2 separate regions of the Homo sapiens genome follow, and region 2 is linked to region 1. A link means that fine-mapping ties the variant in region 1 to the expression of a gene that starts in the linked region. Tissue or cell type: whole blood. Region 1 holds a variant in brackets; the other region holds the start of a gene. All regions are shown on one strand. Distances are from middle to middle.

The links. PIP is the estimated chance that this variant, and not a neighbour inherited with it, causes the effect.
Region 2: it holds the start of SLC35G1, and the variant in region 1 is the best candidate, but not a certain one, in a credible set for the expression of SLC35G1 in whole blood (TOPMed, PIP 0.54).

The regions. Positions count from the first base shown.
Region 1 is chr10:93,927,223-93,930,133 of GRCh38, reverse strand. No RefSeq gene overlaps it. Among named protein-coding and RNA genes, the nearest start is that of SLC35G1, 35 kb to the right of the region's middle. RefSeq lists an enhancer at 2,001-2,911. The variant A/G (reference allele first, on the strand shown) is at 1,637.
Region 2 is chr10:93,892,573-93,895,483 of GRCh38, reverse strand. SLC35G1 (solute carrier family 35 member G1) reads right to left here and starts at 1,506. Exons shown (of 3, transcript NM_001134658.3): 1 at 1,273-1,506. The coding sequence starts at 1,450. RefSeq lists a silencer at 1,103-1,532.

The sequences.
Region 1 (2,911 bases):
CTGGGTGCTCCTGTATTGGGTGCATATATATTTAGGATAGTTAGCTCTTCTTGTTGAATTGATCCCTTTACCATTATGTAATGTCCTTCTTTGTCTCTTTTGATCTTTGTTGGTTTCAAGTCTGTTTTATCAGAGACTAGAATTGCAAACCCTCCTTTGTTTTGTTTTCCATTTGCTTGGTAGATCTTCCTCCATCCCTTTATTTTGAACCTATCTGTGTCTCTGCACATGAGATGGGTCTCCCAAATACAGCACACTGATGGGTCTTGACTCTTTCTCCAATTTGCCAGCCTGTGTCTTTTAATTGCAGCATTTAGCCCATTTACATTTAAGGTTAATATTGTTATGTGTGAATTTGATCCTGTCATTATGATGTTAGCTGGTTATTTTGCTCGTTAGTTGATGCAGTTTCTTCCTAGCCTCAATGGTCTTTACAATTTGGCATGTTTTTGCAGTGGCTGGTACCGGTTGTTCCTTTCCATGTTTAGTGCTTCCTTCAGGAGCTCTTGTAAGGGAGGCCTGGTGGTGACAAAATCTCTCAGCGTTTGCTTGTCTGTAAAGGATTTTATTTCTCCTTCACTTATGAAGCTTTGTTTGGCTGGATGTGAAATTCTGAGTTGAAAATTCTTTTCTTTAAGAATGTTGAATATTGGCCCCCACTCTCTTCTGGCTTGTAGAGTTTCTGCTGAGAGATCCACTATTAGTCTGATGGGCTTCCCATTGTGGGTAACCCAACCTTTCTTTCTGGCTGCCCTTAACATTTTTTCCTTCATTTCAACCTTGGTGAATCTGACAGTTATGTGTCTTGGAGTTGCTCTTCTTGAGGAGTATCTTTGTGGCGTTCTCTGTATTTCCTGAATTTGAATATTGGCTGCCTTGCTAGGTTGGGGAAGTTCTCCTGGATAATATCCTGCGGAGTGTTTTTCCACTTGGTTCCATTCTCCCCATCACTTTCAGGTACACCAATCAGATGTAGATTTGGCCTTTTCACATAGTCCCATATTTCTTGGAGGCTTTGTTCATTTCTTTTTACTCTTTTTTCTCTAAACTTCTCTTCTTGCTTCATTTCATTCATTTGATCTTCAGTCACCAATATGCTTTCTTCCACTTGATCGAATCAGCTACTGAAGCTTGTGCATGCATCACGTAGTTCTCGTGTCATGGTTTTCAGCTCCATCAGGTCATTTAAGGTCTTCTCTATGCTGTTTATTCTAGTTAGCCATTCATCTAATCTTTTTTCAAGGTTTTTAGCTTGTTTGCGATGGGTTCGAACATCCTCCTTTAGCTTGGAGAAATTTGTTATTACCGATGGTCTGAAGCCTTCTTCTCTCAACTCGTCAAAGTCATTCTCCATCCAGCTTTGTTCTGTTGCTGGAGAGGAGCTGTTTTCCTTTGGAGGAGAAGAGGCTCTCTGATTTTTAGAATTTTCCGCTTTTGTGCTCTAGTTTCTCCCCATTTTTCTGGTTTTATCTACCTTTGGTCTTTGATGATGGTGACGTATAGATGGGGTTTTGATGTGGATGTCCTTTTTGTTTGTTAGTTTTCCTTCTAACAGTCAGGACCCTCAGCTGCAGGTCTGTTGGAGTTTGCTGGAGGTCCACTCCAGACCCTGTTTGCCTGGGTATCACCAGCGGAG[A/G]CTGCAGAACAGCAAATATTGCAGAATGGCAAATTTTGCTGCCTGATCCTTCCTCTGGAAGCTTGGTCTCAGAGGGGCATGTAGCCATATGAGGTGTCAGTCGGCCCCTACTGGGAGGTGCCTCCCATTTAGGCCCACTTGAGGAGGCAGTCTGTCTGTTCTCAGATCTCAAACTTTGTGCTGGGAGAACCACTACTCTCTTCAAAGCTGTCAGACAGGGACGTTTAAGTCTGCAGAAGTTTCTGCTGCCTTTTGTTCAGCTATGCCCTGCCCCCAGAGTTGGAGTCTACAGAGGCAGGCAGGCCTCCTTGAGCTGTGGTGGGCTCCACCCAGCCACTTTGTTTACCTACTCAAGCCTCAGCAATGGCAGACACCCCTCCCCCAGCCTCACTGCCGTCTTGCAGTTTGATCTCAGACAGCTGTGCTAGCAGTGAGCGAGGCTCCGTGGGTGTGTGGGACCCTCCAAGCCAGTCATGGGATATAATCTCCTGGTGTGCCATTCGCTAAGACTGGTGGAAAAACACAGTATTAGGGTGGGAGTGTCCCAATTTTCCAGGTACCATCTGTCACGGCTTCCCTTGGCTAGGAAAGTAAATTCCCCCACCCCTTGTGCTTCCTGGGTAAGGCAATGCCCCACCCTGCTTTGGCTCATGCTCCGTGGGCTACACCCACTGTCCAACAAGCCCCAGTGAGATGAACCCAGTACCTCAGTAGGAAATGCAGAAATCACCTGTCTTCTGCGTCGCTCACACTGGGAGCTGTAGACTGGAGCTGTTCCTATTCGGCCATCTTGGTACAACCGAGACAGACTCTTAAACTAATAATTAGAACACCCACTAGAACAATTACTGAGGTAAGAACAGGGCACTCCAGAAGGAGAAAAGGGGAAGAAACTCACTGTAACTGGGAGGTGAAAGTTTTTTGCTTTTTGTTTTTTTGAGATGGAGTCTTGCTCTATCACCAGGCTGGAGTGCAGTGGTGCGATCTTGGCTCACTGCAACCTCTGCTTCCCGGGCTCAAGCAATTCCCCTGCCTCAGCCTCCGAAGCAGCTGGGACTACAGGTGCCCGCCACCATGCCCAGCTAATTTTTTGTATTTTAGCAGAGATGGGGTTTCACCATGTTGGCCATGATGGTCTTGATCTCCTGACCTCGTGATCCGCCCACCTCGGGCTCCCAAAGGGCTGGGATTACAGGCATGAGCCACTGCGCCTGGCTGAGGTGAAAGGTTTCAAAGAGAGGTGAGTCTGAAAGAATAACTTGGAGGTGGAGAGAA
Region 2 (2,911 bases), 35 kb after region 1:
ACAAAAAGGGGAAACTTTAAGAGTTTGCATGGACTGATTCGGCATGCCACCAGAAGGACATTCACCCAGAGGGTGATAGGTGAGAAACTGACCTTTTCAAAGGCTGCTTATCTGTTCAATTCAGCCTGGCATAACCCCTGTTCTAGAGGCACCAGCCCATTTATAAATGATCACAAGTCTGATCATTTCGGTTTGCCTTTAGGACAGAAATGGAGCAAGAATAGTCTTCCTAGAGTCTGTCTCTCTAACTTGGGGAAAGTGCACAAAGGGAGGAGGGGAAAGCGCAGTGAGAGGAGAGGAACAGAAATCCAGGGTCACACTTAGGGGAGGTGACCCAGAGGACAAGGTGGTGCAGGCCGTGTAACTGTCCTAAAAAGAGATCTGCCTATTCCCTTCTTCTTGCAGGAAGCTGCTCCTGGTAGATGGTCGACTTCTAAGAGGAATGTGCTTGAAGCAGCACTTGTGGCCAGTGGAAAGGGCCCTAGGCCGGTATATGGCAAGCTGGGATCCTAACCCTGGTGCTCCCTGGACATGCGCCCCATCTCACCCCCACGTTCCACATCTTGGAGGAGACAAAGCAAACGAAAACCCAAAAGCCCTCACCTTCCTGGGCCTCACTTTGCTCATGTGTCGAAGGAGGGGGACTGAACATAAAGTGTTCTTCACGAGGGGTCCCTGACTTTGGGGACGGGGCTGTGAGCTTCTTAACAAGATATGCCTTGTTCTGCATCGTTTGCTAAAAAGTCCTTGTATCCCTAAAGGTTAAAAACTAGCGGTCCCACTTATCTCTGCCTTTCCAAGATTCTAAAACTCTAGGACGAACATTTTTTCTAGACTCGATGCTTTTCAGCTTCCTTTTCGGAGAGAACCCTTAACCACCGGGATCACTTTTCAGGGTCAGCTTCCTCGCAACGTCGCCCCACTGCAGGATGGCCTCTCTCGCTGACCCCCCACCTACGACCTAGGGGAGGGTACGCCAAACTGCAGTCTGACTCCACAGCCCTGCCCCGACACTAATTACAGGAGCAGCCTCGGAATCCCAAAAGGACTGCTAACAATCGGAAAGTTTCTTCCGTCTTAGCGCCGGCTGGGGCGCCGGGAATTCCGCTTTGCAGCCCCCCAGCTGACAGCTCGAGGGGTTTCCCGAGCCCCGGGCAGGGTGGGGACGGAGGCGCGGCGGGCACTGTGCCCGGGTTGCGGGGACCCCAACCCGCCGGCGCCCGCTCGGGACCCCCGAGCGAGACCAGAGCCCGATCCACACCGCGCACTCACCCGGCTCGGTGCGGGAGCAACACGGCGAGGAAAGGCAGAGCCAGCACCTACCGCGGTCTGGCGCCCCAGCTGCCTCGGCGGCCGCCGGCTCCTCAGTGGCGCCCGGGGGTGCATCGTCCGTTAGCGGCAGCCCGGGCTCCTGGAGCTCCGCGACCCCGGTGCTGTCCTGAGGCCGCATCTCGCGGCACGCGCTCTACCAGCGGCCGGTGCCGTCTGGCGCCAGCAGCAGCGCCTGGGCTGCCGCTCTTCCGGCGGGCGATGGCGCCCATGCGCATGCGCGCCCGGCCCACCCGCACCCTCCCCCAAGGAGACCGCGCGCGTCCTCCGCTGGCCTCTTAACCTGGGGAGACCCGCTGCCTCCCTGGTCGGGCTGTGGTGCCCACAGCTGGCTCTAAGGCGTCCAACCCTCTGCTGCGTTCAGGCTACATGGCCCAGCTGCTTGGAGCCATCCTTGGCAAGTCACACTGAACCTGTCTGTCATGGCACAGACAAGGAGGGGCGCTGGGTTCCCAAGCCCTGGCGCCCGGGGGTCCTGTGGCCTCCTTTTCAGGAGGCTCAAAGAGTGGGCGTTTTTTCATTGATGTAACCACGCATTCAGCACCTCTGTGATACCCCGAAGATTTTACAAAGCACCATGCTTGTCTTTAAATGGTCTAGGGTTTTTATGTTTTGTTTTGTTTTGTTTTGTTTTGTTTTGTTTCCCGTGTTGTCCCTTTGCTGCTTACCAAGGAGGGTAGAATTTTGCTGTTTTGGGAAATATTTTTAAGAAAGAATTAGTGTGTAATTATAGGAAAATATATCTATAAGACTGACCAGAACCCATTTATATGTTCTTTGCATTCTTTGCAAGAGTAGGCATGCATTATTGATCTTTGGTTTTCTTTTCTTAAATGGAAATATCCTAATTTGGCCAGATGTAAGATTCAAGTAATCTGATGTAATTAGACCTGGTAAAATATATTCTTTGGCCCAGGATTCACTAACAGCCTCTTTTTGTTTAGCTAATAATTCTTCTTCCATCTCTTTGCTTGCTTTATATGTGGAAGAACAGTCTCTGTGCAAGGATGAACGTATCTAAACTTCTAAGTCCAGTGCCAAGCAGATCACCAAAGGAGAGTGAAGTTTGCCTTTACTCAGACATTTGCACATAGTGATCCACAGCTGAAACAGTTTTAGACTTGAAGTCAGGAATCCTAGGTTCTGGCCCTGAGTGTGTGACCTCAGTCACCACTGTACCCCTCGAAGCCTTGATTACCTCCTTTATTTAATAGCGATCAAGTATTTCCCTTCCTGCTTCGCAGAGTAGTTATGTAAATAAAATGCAATGATGTGGGCAAAAGCATAATATCACCTGGAAAACACTATGTTAGAAAATCAAAGTGTGTTTTAAACTAGGGTCAGCATATAATTTATCCTCCAAACTGGACCTTTTTTTTTTTAAGAGTAAAAGGAGGAGCTCTTTTAAAAGTTACACAAGGGAATAGGCATAAACTGGGACTGTCCTAGGCAAACTGAGACAAATGGTCACCTGAATTCTAACTTGATTAACACATACTTTTGCCTTGTCTTAAAAGAGAATTTAAGGCTGGGCACGGTGGCTCAGCCTACCATCCTAGCACTTCGGGAGGCTGAGGTGGGA